2 separate regions of the Homo sapiens genome follow, and region 2 is linked to region 1. The links come from fine-mapping of genetic effects on gene expression. Tissue or cell type: sigmoid colon. Region 1 holds a variant in brackets; the other region holds the start of a gene. All regions are shown on one strand. Distances are between the middles of the regions.

What was found. PIP is the estimated chance that this variant, and not a neighbour inherited with it, causes the effect.
Region 2: it holds the start of GYG1, and the variant in region 1 is fine-mapped to the expression of GYG1 in sigmoid colon (GTEx, PIP above 0.99).

What each region holds. Positions count from the first base shown.
Region 1 is chr3:148,952,601-148,963,172 of GRCh38, forward strand. LOC107986045 (a long non-coding RNA gene) reads left to right here. Exons shown (of 3, transcript XR_001740565.2): 3 at 2,982-3,488. Among named protein-coding and RNA genes, the nearest start is that of GYG1, 34 kb to the right of the region's middle. RefSeq lists an enhancer at 4,911-5,412. The variant T/C (reference allele first, on the strand shown) is at 4,989.
Region 2 is chr3:148,988,151-148,994,658 of GRCh38, forward strand. It overlaps GYG1 (glycogenin 1), which reads left to right and starts at 3,390. Exons shown (of 8, transcript NM_004130.4): 1 at 3,390-3,497; 2 at 5,992-6,127. The coding sequence starts at 3,491. RefSeq lists silencers at 3,029-4,078, 4,112-4,406.

The DNA of each region.
Region 1 (10,572 bases):
GAGGTGAGATTGATAGGTCAAAGTGAGACCACAGTTTGAAGGCTTTTGGTAATAACATCAAATTGCCCTGGAAAAGTTGGCACGATCTATGCCCTCACCAAGCAGTACAGGAAAGTAACTTTAGCCCTGTTTCCTTCATTGTGCTTTGTAGTTTTGTGATCTCTTTTTATTGGTTTCATATTTGGCAGATTTGCCTATCTCCACATGAGTTCAGATAGCCCAACATGTTAGTGAGACCAAGACTGTAAGTTTAATAGCTTCAGTAGGAGTTTTTATCAGTAGTTATATAAACAAAGAGAATATCCTATACATAGTAAATCAGGACTGTCATTTCTATACACAAAGGACAGCAAAGTTAGATTTTTTATTGATAGAAATAGTGCCTTGATTTTTATATCAAGCATTTAATACTCTATTTTATACTCTACGACATCTCAATAAATGTTTGTTGATTATCTTTTAAATACCAACTAATTCAATTAGAAATCTTCTGGTTTCAAGTGACAGAAAACCCAACTCTAAATGGCTTAAGCAAAAAAAAAAAAAAAAAAGGAATTCATTGATTCATATTGATTCATGTAACTGAAAACCCTGTGAGACAGGGTAGCCACAGGTGAGGCTTCATTCTGAAATTAAAGGCTGCCACCACCAGGGCCCACCTCTGTTTGGCTGCCTTTGGACTAGCTCAATGCCTAAGCTCTCTGTGATGGCCTCTGGCAATGCCAAGCTGAGTCACAAAAATGGCTGCAGGAGAATCAGAAGAAAGTCACTATAGACACTAGGCAGAAAAGCAACAAATACCACTATTCTGGCTCCCATATAGTTCTAGAGCTAGCAGGAAGTTTAGAAATCATTTAGTCTAATAATTTTTAAAAGTTTTTTTGTTATGTTTTGTTTTGCTGGTAACCCTTTCTTCAGACAAGAGCTTATGATGAAGTCAAATATATAAAATAGAATTAAAAACTGAAAGGGTAAGTTGAAACAGAGGTGAGGATCCCTTGCCCCCTCGCTGCTCATTCTCCATGAGGCACCTCCAAGGAGCACACTATTAATTACTTTAGAGATAGAGAAACTGAAGCTCAGAACACATACATTGCTCATTCTGGAACATCACCCATGAATGACAGAGCCAATGGAACTCAGGAGCCTTCACCCTGTCCCGTCAGTCTTGCCGCTTCCCTCACTGGTTGCTCCTCACTGCCATTTTGAGCATTATGTTTAACTGATATCCTTGATCTAGCAACTCTGCTCCTACCAAAAAAAAAAAAACGGAAGCAGAATTGAAAAGCTCAATTGCCTGCCATCTGTGTATATGTACAGCCCTTGTGTCTCCAGCCACAGTTGGTTACTGAGACTAGCTCAGAACTGAGCAGGCTCAGAGCTACATTAAGCCTCTGTTCCTCCAAGTCCATTTGAGATTTTTAATTTCAAATCAGAAAAACAGTGCCTACATCAGTGTTTCTCAGGGTGTAATCTAAGAATTTTGTGGATACCTCTCGCTCCAAAGCCCCCTTAGGAATTCTTGAGTTTAGAAGATATTTTTGGACAAGGTATAGTGAACCAAAGCTGGAACCTAGAAATAGATGTCCTATGAGAAAGAAAGCTTATCAGTTCTAATTTAAAAGTTAGAAGTCCTTTCTTTAGTACATGATTGAGAGTTAAAACCAATACTGGAAAAAGAAATGAAAAAAGCGACCAGATTTATGCAGATAAATTTGCATAGGCAGTTAAAAATAAAATAAATATTTTAAATAAAGTAAAATAAGCAACACCATATATACCTGATGAGAAGCATCCCCTAAAATATCACTGACATGTTTTATCTGAATTTATAGCCAAGAGATGGACACAGGAAGACTGCTGTAGCTCACAAATGAATTCTCTCTTTCCTCTCTGCCTCCCATCTCCTTCTCCTACTTTGTATTAAAGCTTTTCTTATGCAAAAGATCCAGGACATAGAAGAAAACAGAAAATTTCATTAACAAATTTTCTAAAATAAAACAAAATACAACCTTAAAGGCCATTGGGACACTAAGTAACATCCTGAGCTGTATATATGCAAGATTATGGGTTAGAGCCCACAGAGAAAAGTCACAAGAGACCAGAATGGAAGAATGATTTCTGGAGAGTCTCATGAAATATAACTCTCCCTTTATATGGAGGAAAATTGTTTCTATTGAATCTATGATTTCTAGCAAACCCCACACAGAATTGTGCATTGGTATTCCACAATTAAAACCAATTTTAATTACTTGAAGCTAGATATATAGAGCCTCTCAAAATGTTCCTTGTAAAAGAAAATTTTTCCCTTGACATAGAAAAAAAAATGGAGAAAACTGACATATTTTCATGTCCCTTTTAGATCTAAAATTATTTTTGGGGTTTAGTAGAAGAAATATATTAAACCCATCACGATTTGCTCATCATAGAGCCCTGGATCTAGTACATAAAGAGATGTGACTGTTACAGGAACAATTCGAGTTGAGGAGGCATTGATTTTTCTCACATTTGGGCTTGAATAACCAAAGAAATTCCTTCATGTCCCCCTATAACCACCTGTTCACATCTCAGTTATTTGTCAGCTGATGTTGTAATTTTCTGTTACTCATCTATATTTCCCACGACATTCTTAGCAAAGGCAAGGGCTGTATCTCATTTATGATCTTGGAGGGCCTAGGAGAATGCTTGGCCCTCAAATATTCAATAAATTGAGTAGGCACTTAATAAATGGCATAGAAACAGAAGCATAAAAGTGACCAGACGAACCCATTGCAACACCCGTTCCAAGCTCTGAAATGCTACTATTTTTACCTGTTTTTCTGGATTCGCAAAAGGCTAAGTGTAAATCCCAAAGAAAGTCTGGGTCCGAAATTTCAGAAAATATGGCCAAGTAAGAATTAGAACTGTGGAAGGGGTTCTAGAAACACTGGGTGAAATGAATGTATCCTCAATGGTATTTTTTTGCTTTTTTTCTTTGCTAGTTTATTTCATCAAAAAGATCGGAAGCCTAAAAACAGCATTGTTAGGGAACTGGCAGCTCAAGACAAAGAAGCCGAACCAGAAGAGGGCACTCTTACCACAGAGATTTACAGCTAATGGTTTTTTTTTTTTTTTTTTTTTAATGTTTGCCCCTCAGCAGGGCCAACAGAGAAAGCAGGACATTCTTTCCTAAGGAGCTCATAACTCTCCCAGCCAAGCAAGAAGGAAAAGGCAAAACACCAAGGGTGAAAACTTAGCAGAGAATGCCAAAGGCAATGACCGTGCTCTCTGACCATCACACGCTGGAGGCAGAGCTTTATATGGTTCTCAAAGGATTGTTTACCTCCTCCTCACTAAACCTTAAAAAAAAATGTATTCCAAAAACGAATTACACCAAGCCAACCCACATTACTCAGTCTACGAAGCCAACCCACATTCTGGCCTGTACTGCCTTTCAACTCTTCCTATTTCCACTTGCTGGAATAAATCATTTCACTCTAGGGCCAAAACAGGTTTGATTTCATCTGTCAGAGGCCTGTAACATTAAGCGGCAGTGTGGTGCTTGTTAGAGGAGGAGCACTTGTATTCTCCCGGATCCCCTGTGGAACCGCCTGGGCTTCTGAGCTAGGGAAGCAGATAAACCCTGTCCCTGCCTTCACCCTTCTTTGGGGACAGTTATAGGCTGACGGTCTGAACTTTGGGAGAGACAGGACTTCGGTTATCCCTCTCCACTGAGGGCTGCCACCGCACACAATTGATCCAGAGATTGGGAGATGGGTAATCCATCTCATCCTGTCCCTAAAGCCCTGTCTTCCGCAGTCAGCTCTGTTTGAGGACTTCATTTGTGTACTGGTCCAAAATGTGCCCTTCTCCTAGCCTGTGTATGACTAGGAGACTACTTCAACTTCCTTGCCCACAATTCTTCTCATTGCTTACTCTAGCCAGACCGGCCTCTATGTTGTTCTTTGAACACAATTGTGTTCTTGCCTCAGGGCCTTTGCACTTTGATTGTCCCTCTATCTAGAATTATATTCTCTCAGATACCACATGGTTCACCCTCTCGCTTTCATTCAGGGTTATGCCCGAATGTCATGCCTTCCCTGAGCACGCACATCTACACTAGCACCCACAGTATTACACTCTATCCCGACACTGCTGTATTTTCTTCATAGCACTCCTCACTGCCTAACGTTGTTATAAATCTAATCATCTATTTCTGTCAACTCCGCAAAGGCAGAGACTGACTTCTATTTGTCCACAATTGGATCTGCCGTGCCTCGACACAACGGATGTTCTCAGTAAACAGAGAATTAATCAATTAAAATATATCTTTCAGCCCCTGGGTTCCCTCTTCCAGCTTCTCAGGTACTCCTCATTCACTCCAGAATTAAACTAAATCCTATGGCGTGGCATTCAGGGCTCTGATCAGACCCTGTCCTCCCTTTCTGGCCCTGTCTCCGATTGCACACCCTCCACCTGCAACGTACCCTGGAACTCCAGTCAAACCTGGATTACCATCCACTTTCATGCCTGGATGCCTTTGCTCCTGCCCTTCATTCCCTCACCACTTGCTGAAATCCTCCTAATCTCTGAACACCCATCTGACACGCTCACTCCTCACAATGAAGAGGCATTGTCCCTCCCATCCCAGCCACAGACAGTTCTTCTGTCCTCCAATGCCAGTTTGTACATCACTTGTATGATGCCCTCTGTTACAAATTATTTCTCTCTCTAACTTTCTCTGCCAGTAGACAAAGTAGAGGAACAGGATAATTCGCTCTTTTAACTTCCACACATAGAGCAGGGGCCTCGACACAGATAACCTCAGAAGCTAGGCACAAAGTAAGTGAGGTGCATGGCTGGCTTCATCAGCTCAGGCTGCCATAACAAAATGGCACGGACTGAGTAGCTTAAACAACACAAACTTATTTTCTCACAGTTCTGGAGGCTGGAAGTCCAAGTTCAAGGTTCCATCAAGGTGAGTTTCTAGTGGGGCCTCCCTTCCTAGC[T/C]TGTAGCTACCTTTTCACTGTTCCCTACAAGGTCTTTCCCCTGAATGCATGCAGAGAGAGAGCTCTCTAGTGTCTCTTCCCCTTACCCTCGTGACCTCATTTAACCTTAATTGCTTCCTTGAAGGCCCTATCTTCATTCAAATCAGTCACTATGGAGGTTAGGGGTTCAACATGTGAATGACAGGAAGTGAGGACACAACTCAGTCCTCAACAATAGGCAAGGCAGGACTCAAAGGAACTGGAGGGGAGTCCCCCATCCATAGGGGGAGCTGCTGCTCAGCTCCAGCACATGGTTCCAGGCCTGACATGCAAGCCCACTATTCCTAAACCGCCAGTTTCACAGAAGCTGGAACTCTGGATGATTCCTAAATCAAATTTCTCATTTTGAAATGAGAGTCAGTAACTAATTAAAACATTATTTTTAACAGTGTGAGCAAAACAAGCCCTGTCCACAGGCAGGATTCAGCCTGGGGACCAAGAGTTGGTAGTTTTTGAACTCCAGCAGTAGTACTGGGCCCATGGCAAAGTCTTGCTCAATGCTTCGGCAGGAAATTGTCTATCGATGTACGTGCCACTGTTTCAGAAACTCTGAAATAAAATGAAGTGGAAAAAAAAAATCCTGACTTCTAACTGTTATACAAAGACTGCCTACTCCTCCCATCTCTCCCACCTTATAGGTCTACTAACAAGTAACTGCTGTCACTGTCCGCCTCTCCATTCCCATCTCCCCTGCCCAGCCACACAAACCTGGGCAGACCCTGGGTCTAGTTCTGAGGTCTGCAATTAATGGGAGAGAGAGAAACTGGGGTCAGTTGAGAAGCAAGCCACAAAGTGATTAGAGATCTGAAAAATAAAGATCAGGAGAGGTTAAATGAACCAAGGTGATTCCCTTTGGAGGAGAGAAGGTTACAGGGTGAGCTAGCGACGGTTTTCAAGTATATAAAAGGCTCATGCCTAGGACAGTAATAAGCGGTTCTCCCTACTGAGAACAGAACAAACAGAAAACACACTCCAAATGCAGCATGGGGATGTGGATGTTTCTTCCTCTAACACAGGTATTTGTAAGGACTTTTGAATCTGAATGGACTTTTAGAGTGGAAAAAGTATTTTTTCTTTGCATTCATTATCTCTCTCCTGATGGAGCAGGTTGTTAACAATGAAAGGAGGAGCCATATGGTAAAAATACTTTCATCTACATAAGAGGACAGTGATGTGATGTTTCTCAATGAAGAATGTATCATTTCTATATTTGCCTATGAGATCCACTTCATACAGGAAGCAGCTGAAACACAAATTGCTTTGGTAACATGTTCAAGGTCAGAGGGCTATAAACAGCCACATTTTCCCCGTTGCACACTTTCCAGTTACATACCAAGAAAACTGAGTTTTTCCTAGTAAATAAGGAGTGTAGAAGATATCAATACATAAATAGATATACATAAACAAACAAGCAACCTCTTCCTTAAGAAGTGTAGAAGCAGGCTGGGCACAGTGGCTCATGCCTGTAATCCCAGAACTTTGGGATGCCAAGGTGAGCAGATCACCTGAGGTCAGGAGTTCGAGAGTGGACAACATGGCAAAACCCTGTGTCTACTAAAAATACAAAAATTAGCTGGGCATGGTGGCACGCTCCTGTAATCCCAGCTACTTGGGAGGCTGAGGCAGGAGAATTGCTTGAACCCGGGAGGCGGGAGGCAGAGGTTGCAGTGAGCCGACACTGCCACTGCACTCCAGCCTGCGTGATGGAGCGAGACTCAGTCTCAAAAAAAAAAAGAAAAAAGAAAAACTATAGAAGTAGAGTCCTCCAGGGCAGAGGTAAGCTGCCTTCATAGGGAAGCATGGCATTTCCCAGAGGCCTCCATGGTGACTGGCATTTTCTTAATTTTCTAAGTTGAAGGTAGAGCAAAAGTGAGCTTATCTCTGGAACTCTACCCAGACTGACCTTCAAGAAAGCCCACGGAAATAAAGTCTTAGCTGTTTCCTTTGTGCTCCCTTTCTTCTCTCAGCCCCAGAACCCTCTTATTCCTGAACACGTCCACCAATATCCTCAGGGCCCCTCACAGAGAAGGCTGACCAGACCCAGAAACCAGCTTGTTACCCTACTTCCTCACAGCATCACTCTTCTTTAGGATTTCTAACCAACATGATATAGCCTTATGCCTCTTGTTAAGAATGCCCATTGTTACATGGGAATAAATTTTGGAGGGTTTCCACTGAGCAGGTGGGTTTCAGATAAACATGGGCCCTTGCACCTCTCTTCATGCGGGTAAAATCTGCCCCACCTAGTTAGTCATGGCATTTACTCAATCCTGATCTCTTTTCTCCTCCCCTTTCTACCACTTCCCAAGATGTATTTATTTGCCCTGATATTGCCTGTATTAGTCTGTTTTCACACTGCTGATAAAGACATACCCAAGACTGGGCAATTTACAAAAGAAAGAGGTTTAATTGGACTTACAGTTCCACATGGCTGGGGAAGCCTCACAATTATGGTGGAAGGCAAGGAAGAACAAGTCATGTCTTACATGGATGGCAGCAGGCAAAGAGAGCTTATGCAGGGGAACTCCTCTTTTTAAATCCATCAGATCTCGTGAGACTTATTCAGTATCACGAAAACAGCACAGGAAAGACTTGCCCCCATGATTCAATTACCTCTCACCAGGTCCCTCCCACAAGTTCCACAGGTTCCCTTCCCACTTGGGAATTCAAGACAAGATTTGAATGGGGGCACAGCCAAACCATATCATTGCCTAATTGTATTTTTCTTCTTGCTGGATTATTAAAGAGCCTCAGTATCATCTTTAAATGTTATTAGCTTAATAAGAATGAGAATGTGAGACTGTCAACATTAAATCAAAGAAGTGTTTTGCTTCGCTTTGTTTCATGTGATGGGACTATATCTAGAAGGCGTGATAAAAGGAGGGTAGCCCATTTAATTATACATCATAAATTGTTACCAGACATTTGGAATTAGGAAAAGTACATCAGGAATTACAAGGGCCAGCACATGTGAAAAAGGCTTAATTGAGACCATGAATTTGGAAATAGCTAAAGAGGCAGTTTATCTTACTGCTATTATATCTTCTAGTGTTGTTATGCTCTGGATTGGCTTGAATCACATAAAAATGGTTCTAAAAGGGATATGGAATCCATGTTTTATGAGTAGAGATTAAGTTATTTATTTGATATTCCATCACATAAATTTGGGAGCTAGACAAATCTGCATTCAAATCCCAGATCTCCCATTTGCTGTGAGAATCTGGCCAAGAAAGTTCATCCACCTCTAAAATAAGCATAAGAACACCAACCTCCAAGTTTTTCGTAAAAATTAACTTATGTAAGATACATCATACACATAGCAGTTTGTAGCACATATTAAGCTTTCAGCAGGTGGTAATGATTACCACCACTAAAATAATAGTAATAACATTTTCACCCCTCTTTGCTTTCTCAAACACTTCTCTAGATTCTAATCAGACAAACTTACCTTGAAAGCAGATATCAGCAACCTGGAATATTGTGGCAAAGGCAGCCCAGAAATTGTATCAGACATTGTACTTCCAGTGTCTTCCACTAACGTGCAAAAGTGTGCTCAGTGTATCCTGGGCCACCCTCCTCTTCATATCACCCTCCTACCACCGGGTCTCCTGAGTCCTCCTCTCCTTCCAGCAAACCCATCCATGCATACCATCCTCTGCCCTGCCCCAGTGTTACTCCTTCTCTCACCCTCCCCTCTTTAATCAAAACTCTCTTTCCTTCAGGATGGTTATATTCTTTGTGTGCTAGGACAAAAGTACCAGCAGTTTCCTCATCAGCCAACTGAGAGAGTAAATGAAAAGCTCCCAACTGCGCCAAGCCCTCATGTGGCCTCAGTAAATGTGAGTGCTCATCCCTCTTGTGTAAGATAGGAGATCCGTACAGGTTTACCTCTAAAACCCTGGGATTACACAGAAATTTAGAGCAAAGTATGAAGCCAGGGTAGTTTGTATGCTGGCAGAAAAGTTTTCTTAACCACTTTCTCCCCAACCCACACACCTCAACTAATCTTTATTTGGTAGACTATGATATATTTAAAGATATCTGAAGAAACTGTGTCACCACCCAGCCAACACAAAAAAGCCAAAACACTATCAAAATCCTCACCAGCCCACTTCCGAATAGTGGCTGGCCCCTGCTCCCCATACAAATATTGCTAGAGTATTTAAAAATAGAGTTAGCACCTGTTAAGGATGTTTGTGGACAGTCCAAGAAAACGTAGATCAGCTTCATCCTGGAAGGACCCTTGACCAAAAGCTGTGACCTCAAGCATGACAAGCTTTTTTGAGCAGAACTAAGAGCAAGATAGGCACCCCGTAACTAAGAGCAGCGTGGGTACCCCAGGGTAAGTATTCTGGTAACATTTGCTGAATTCAGGCTGGAGCAGTGACCTGATCGAGAGGTGGCATTTGCCATTAAGGCAGATTTGGAATTTGATGGGCTGGTTTGTCAAGCAAAGGACCATCCATGGGACTGATGGCTCCGTAAGAACCTAGTAATGGAATTATGTGCCTGGGATACACAGCTGGCAATTATATTCTCCACTTCAGGCAGCAATAAAGATAAAGTGCTTTATAATGTATTCATTCATTTCAATACAGTCAGTAGTGATGTTAGAATGGGGTTCCTATCAAGAAAAGGCAGAACTGCATTTGAGAAGGAAAAATGTGCTTTCTTAAAGAGATTATTTTAGAAAACACATGAATGTACATCAGAAATTTCATTAAATAAGTCAATTTGGCAGGTGATCCTAATGGGCTACTGGAAAAGGGGAATTAGAGCAATTGAAACAGCGGAAACAAATGAGCTACAGGTGTGCCTTCTTGTTGTCTCTGTTCTCATTTGGATTATTACAGGCTATGTCAAATACATTTTGAAAAGTTTGTAGTGTATCATCCCAATAATTATATCTGGAGTGTCTAGAAAGCATTGACTAGTTATATGATGGGGAGCTTAAGAGAGGAAATGTGGTTTCTGGGTTGTCCTCTCATAGGCTCAGCAGCTTCTTGATACTTCCCCTTATCCCAAGGCTGTCCTCCCCTCCTCTACCCAGGAGGAGATGAGTCACACAGGGAAAGAAAAGGACTCCTAATGCAAGAGGAAAAACACTGAGATAACCCCCAGGGAGGGGCGCTGTCCACAAGAGGCTGTGCTGATGCTCATAAAGAAGTTAGACCTGTGAAGGCACAAAGCTGCACTCCTAGCCTTGACCTCTTGCCAATATCAAAAAATGTTGTCTTTTAGGATGATGTGAATTTAAAGCTAACTCATAATCTTCCCCCTCAATTCCCAAATTAGCCTCTTTTTTGAATTTGCCTGTTTCACTAATTTAACTAACACATATTTATTGATAATTTACTATGTGCCAGGCACTGTATTAGGTGCTGAGGATAAAGCCATTAAAAAGGACAAAGTCTTGTCCATACACCCTTACATGCTAGTCAGAAAAAAATGACTTAATATATGATATATCGTCAGGAAGGATATAGTCAGGGAAGTCTTTCTAACCAGGGTACATTTTAGCCATCTCTATAGCTTAAGCTCCCTA
Region 2 (6,508 bases), 34 kb after region 1:
TAGACAAATGTTTAGACAGAAAGTAGATTAGTAGTTGCCCAGGACTGAGGGAAAGAAGAAGAGAGTAAGGAGTGACTGCTAATGGGTACAGATTTCTTTTGGGTTGATGAAATTGTTCTAAACTTAGATTGTGGTAATAGTTGTACAACTCTGTGAATACACTAAAAACCATTTAGGTATACACTTTAATTCAGCACAAGTGGCTGAATTTTACACAATGTGAGTTATGTAACAATAAGGATTAAAAAAAAAAGCTATGTAACCAGCCATCAGGCTACTGCAACTTTTGGAGTTTGGGACTCTAGCTTTCAAGTGAAGAACGGACTACTTTGGGCCTCCAAGGATATTATTTCTTGAAACCAAACTTTTGCTTGATATTGTGATTACCGACAACAATCCCAGGTACAGATTGTGTATGTTATCAATTAAGGGCAAAATTTTAAGTTAGTTGACTAGTTAGTTCCTGTGTCTGGCCAGATGTGGTATATGTATTTCACAAACTTTCCGTGGGAACCATTTGATTCTCAGGCGAGTAGGTTGCCCTCTGCTCCGGAATATATTTCCAGGTCAGTTGCCCCCACCATCAATTAGTGTGTGTGCTCAAAAGAATGCAAACTGATTTCAGCATTATCTTAAACAAAACTTAATTAGGAAGGTAAGTATCCTGCCAAAAAAATTACATAATGCATTACAAAGCCAATTTAAAATGAATTTTGGACCATTCCGAATATATGAATTCAGCATAGGTTTAAATGGTTAATAGTCATGCCTACTGATGTAGGGTATAACTTATCTTTTTTAACTTAAATCTTTCTTTTAGGATTCTGTAATTTTACTAGTTCAAGTTTCACAAGAAAAAAAATAACAAGCTAAAATCTGAAACATTTGCCTCACTATACCATGTTTATCCACTACCTCTAAGGCCTTACAATCCAAAATGTTTGAACACCTCACTATTCAAAGTGTGGGTCCATAGCCTGGGGATCACCTGGGAGACCCACCCCCAAACTACTGAGTCAGAATCCGCATTTTAATAAGATCCTTGGGCAATCTGTGTGCGCATTAAAGTTTGAGAGGTCTTGCTCTCACACCAGACTGAAGCTCACTGCAGGGCAGCCTCAGGAAAAGTAGGCAGTGGGGTCATTATGATCTATATTAAGACAATGAAGAAGAACAGATTGTAGCAACCTCAAAATGTCCCTATTTGATTCAAAGTGGTAAAAGCTGTAAACTTTCTATTTGTGTAAATATACATGAAGCTCAGGAAGGGAAGCTGTGGTAACCGTTCCTTTTACTTAAACGTCCTGGGAGTTGCAGCAGAGAGGAGCTTGTTCTAAGGGAAGCTTTTCTGTTTTTCCCAGTTGTCCCCAGTTCTACCTCCTGGCTTTGCCCTTTCAGCCCCATCACCACATCCCTGGCTAAGTCCAGCCTGAGATAGTAGGCTGCAAGAAGTAGATGGTTAAGGGTCAGCTGATGGCAGGAGGGTTCTGGGTGAAAGATGGAAATCTCACTCTTCCAAGTTCACCTCTCAGTCTGCAAAAGAGCAATCAGACTGAGAAGTACCTCTCTTTGTTTTCCCTCTCCCCACTTAAGATACAAAAGTGTAGCCTTTGTGTTCCTTAAAGAGCTCCAACTCTTCTATGTCTATATCTTTTGAATAAGTGGAAACCCATCTATTGCCCTTTCCACTTTTCTGTTTCCTACAACGGAAGCACATAATGCCAAGTAACTGGGAGGGCCTCCCATGTGATCAGCGGTCTCTAGGCCATGGTCAAGACTAGGAAGGACTCAAGAGAGGCTCCTGGAAGGTGATATTTAAAATACTGATTTTAAGGTTCTACCCTTAAGATTCTTTTTGTTTTGTAACCTGTTTTTCTTCAAATAATATATTTTGAACAGCTTTTTATATTAAAAATATATAATGATTATGCCTACAGAGTATTTCATTACCTCAAGAGTATATGACGCGACTTCAAAAAGTCCATAGAATATACATATTATAAAAAAAAAATGCATGGATTTCAAAATTATTTTGCACCAAAATAAACCTACCCTTAAGATTCTGATTCAGGAGGTCTGGGCTTAGGCCCAAAAATCTACGCTTTAACCAGTGCCCCCAAGTGATTCTGATGTAGGAGATCCACACCCACACACGAGGAAACAGTGATATAACTGGTTTGAGGACAGCAGTACCACCTTTGCAAATAAATCACTTATTCTTAAGCATCTGTTTTGCTTTTTGAACTGATGTCAACTTCCTGATTGGTTTCCAAATGGCTTTGCAGTACTCATTCAACATTTACCGAGCAATTTCAGTTTTCAGTTTGCAGAGAACTGAACTACCCGAGGCTTGTTCTGTGTTTGGACTGGGGATGGGGAGCAGAGAAGGATGTGATCACATTAAAGCTATTTCTCAACTTCCTAGAAAAATGACAAATTGACCATTTCAAGATTTGTGAAACAGGTTAGCATTGGCTAACCACAGTTACAATAATTTACTAACCTTTTTGGAGCCCCTGTGTACAAGAGGCACCAAGACTTTCTGGGTGGGAAGGTTGATTCTGTAACCAAACTGCCAGGGTTTAAATCCTACTTTCTCCATTTATATTATATGACTATAGAAAAGTTAGCACTTTGGGAGGCTAAGGCTGGCAGATCACTTGAGGCCAGGAGTTCCAGACCAGGCTGGCCAACATGGTGAAACTCTGTCTCTACTAAAAATACAAGAAAAAAAAGAAAAGAAAAGTTAATTTAACTTTTCTGAGCTCAGTTTCCTCCTCGTCTGTAAAATGAATATGTAACACCTCACTGAGTTCGTACAAGGATTAAATGAAGCACTTAAATGCCTAATTGATGCAGATGGCTCCAAGAATTTAACATTTACGAAATATTCACTATATTTTTTAGGTTAAGGGTACAAAACCATTGTGAGTACACTAAGGAATGATTATAGAGGCTGATCGAAATTCTGCAAAAAAAGCGTAAATTTTACGTTTCATTCAAGCAGTTCAGACTCACGATTTTAACTAGAGTAATCTGGGGTTTGTTTGCTTGTTTTTTAAGGTTCCCTAACCCTTGGCTTCTTGGGGAGTTTGATGCCGCACTCAGCCCCAAAGTCCCCCTTAACTCCCAGGTTTAGCGGCGACAGGGGGCGCGCGGTTGACAAGGGCAGGCGCCCCGGGGAAGTAGGAGCAGGGGCGCCGGTGAGCCGCAGCCGCAGCGGCAGCCTAGCCCCGAGGGAGGGAGGAGGAGCCGAGGGAGACGCGGGACCCGGAGCCCCGCGGGCCACCGCCCCTGCCGGCCGCGCAGCTGGGAGGATGCGGACGGCAGCGAGAGCGTGCGCGGCCACGTGACGGCCGCTATAAGAGCGCACGGGGCAGACGCTCGGTTCCCCGCCGTGCCTCCTCGCTGGCCGCGCTCCCTCCCGGTGCCGGCTTCTCTGAGTCACCAACCTGAGGCTGCCCCGGCCGCCTGCGCACCCGGCAGCACCATGACAGGTACCGCCGCGCAGCCCGCCGCCGCCAGCCCCGGGACCCCGGCTTCCTGCCCAGCCGCCGCCTCCCTTCTCCTCCGCCCTCAGCCCCGGAGTGTTCCCGGCAGGACGAAACCGCCGCAAAGTTGCTGGCTGGCCGCAGCCGGGCGTGTTTCTGCCTGCGTCAGCTGCCGCCCCGCCGCCCCCCAGAGTGCAGGGATGGGGCAGCCGGGCAGAGCCCGGGCCCTCGGCCGGAGCTCTCGTTCCTGCTTCCGTCTCCTCGTCCTTCCTCTTGCTCTCACGGCGAAGGGCCGGCGGGCGGAGCAGCTGCGGCGGGGCCGTGTGGGGGTGGGGAGCCGGTTCCCCTGGGGGTTCCAGGCGGGAGTCCGGGGCGCAGCGGCATCGTGGGGAGCTGCCCCGGCCTCTGGCGGCCCGGAACCCCAGGAAGCAGGGGCTCCGAGGCGGGGATACTGCGGCCTCCGCCCGGCTCCTCCGCCGCCCGCCCCGGCCCCGGCCGCCACGCTGAGCCTATTTTTAGGCCTTTGGGGCCGGGTTGCGGGAAGCCGGGAGTCGGACTAGCGTCCCCGGGCGCGAGCCCCGTCTGGTGGGAGGGCGCCGGCTTTGGCTTCACTTGTTGCGAGGCGTCCGGGCCACTCCACGAGTTAGCCCCAGCACTGGGAAGCTCCGAGTTAGCTGGTCCTTCCGTGTCATTGAGGCTAATAGCCAGGGTTATTACAGCAGTTGAACTGCCACAAAGATTGCAGGTGTAACCCAGAGTTCAGCCGTCTTTAGGAAGATTAAACTCCTACCCAGCTGTCATTGGTCTTTCTTGGTCATTTGTAATGTTGGCTAGTCTGGTGTTCTAACCTGTGTTCTATCCCTTATTTAATCTTGGAAATCATCCATATCCTTGCTTCCAGAAATCCTTGAATCCTGCTCACCTTATTACATTTTTCTCCATGATCGCCTGGAACCTGGACTTCATTTGAGTTAGATGATCATTCATTTTGCCTAGCTTAAGTATTTTTGGTACAGATTGACAGCGATGTTACCCATGTTATAATGGGCTGAAGATAATAGAAGCAAGTACAGGCGGATGTTGATGGGCCTGTCAAGGGACAGGTGCCACTGTTCAGAGCTTTCCTAGAGTGTGAGTGACTGGGAAGCTGGTGGCCCTTCGGGGGTGGGGAACTGGTCTTCCTACAACTTAGTAGTTGGCCTGCCGTGGGAGAGGGCCTAATAAAATGTGTGAAGATGGCTCTCAGGTCAGCAGCCGAGGGATGCGCTGGCCCACTAGGCAACCCACAACTTCCTCTCATGTCTCGGTGGAATTTCTACTGCTTCCAGCCTCCACCTTGGAAAACGGGCAAGGGAGAATGAGGGAAAGCCAGGTCAGAAAGAGAAGGACTTCATGACAAAATGTCCCAACTCGCTGGTTAAGCAACTGACTCCTACCAGAACTTGATCCGAAGTGTCCTATGCATTTGGATGCCCACCAACTTGCTAATGTTTCTTGGAGATGGAACATGGCCCAGAATTGTCCCAGGGAATGACTGGAGAAATCTTGAAGCCTGTGCTAGGGGTCTTGGGAGGGTGGGGACTGTTCAGCAGGAGGAAAAATCCATGTATTTACCTTCTCTTCTGGCAACTAAGTGATTATTGGAGATTGGGGTGCGTGTCTGTTGGTTTGGGCGGGGGGAGGGGGAGGGTGCAGGATGGACCTGCACCTTCTTCTCCAAAGAAAAGCAGGCAGTTGTTTAGGGCTTCTTGGGTGATCTCCAAATCTATTTATCAGTGATTGATAACTATTTAGATAGAAGCATCAAGGAGGGAAAGCCTCTTTGAGGAGCTGATACTTGAGGAGAGACTCAATGTTATTTTTCAGGGATATTGGGGCAGGGGAGCTTTTGCTCCACGTTGAGGAAACAGTTATGTATAAGATGCCTGGAGTTCGAGGCTGCAGTGAGCTATGATCACACCACTCCACTCCAGCCTGGGTGGCCGAGTGAGACCCTGTCTTAAAAAATACATACATACATACATTCCTGAGGCATGGCATAAACGTAAGCACCAGAATGAAGAATATGGACTCTGCTTTCAGACTGACTGAATTGAGTTTGACGGTTGGTTTTGTGCTTGTCTGAAAACACTGTCTACAGTACCTTGTAGAAGAAACAGCAAATGTACTACTTGATCTCTTCATTACCATCTGTTAGTTGCCTGGAGTTCAAACTCTTGGTATTAAGCTATTGTTTTGTCTGAGAATTTAGCGTGTCGGATTTAATTTCTATAGCTTAATCAACCTGTTGAAGGTTGCCATATGTGCCTGCTATGATCTTGAACCATTCTTGAAGTGGGCACTTGGGGTTTTCTCCCCAAAGGGCTACAGCTTGATTCATAGAGAAAGTTGATGTTAGAGGAACTGGTTTTGCTGAATTACTGTTTGAATGGGTTCCTGGGGAAAAGGCTTTCTCCAGATAAGATACTGTAATGAGTGTTTTTTTTTTCTTTGTATTAAGATCAGGCCTTTGTGACACTAACCACAAACGATGCCTACGCCAAAGGTGCCCTGGTCCTGGGATCATCTCTGAAACAGCACAGGACCACCAGGAGGCTGGTCGTGCTCGCCACCCCTCAGGTCTCAGACTCCATGAGGTGAGGACCTCGCTGCCACCCCAGCATCCAAGGGGCTCTGACATCCTTCTCCCTGTTGCTGACATCATTGGACATTGAGGCCATGCTCTTTTCAGGAATTGAGCACCGGGTAGAGAAAAATGAGAGATGCTGAGTGCAGGATTGCTGTATTTGAAACCTCCTCCTAGCTTTTGGGAGATATTCCAACTCAATTCTTTTCTGGAAGGTGTTATGCTGGCCCACACTTTCTGGTTCCAACTAGGAGGGGAAAGAAGGAGTCGTCTTCCTTCACTCCATCCCCTCTGGGTGATCTGAAGGAGTGTGTCAGGCATTCCCTGCTTACATACACCTTTACACAGTCACAATTCATGGACATTCCTTTCCCAGGATGCAGCAGGGGCT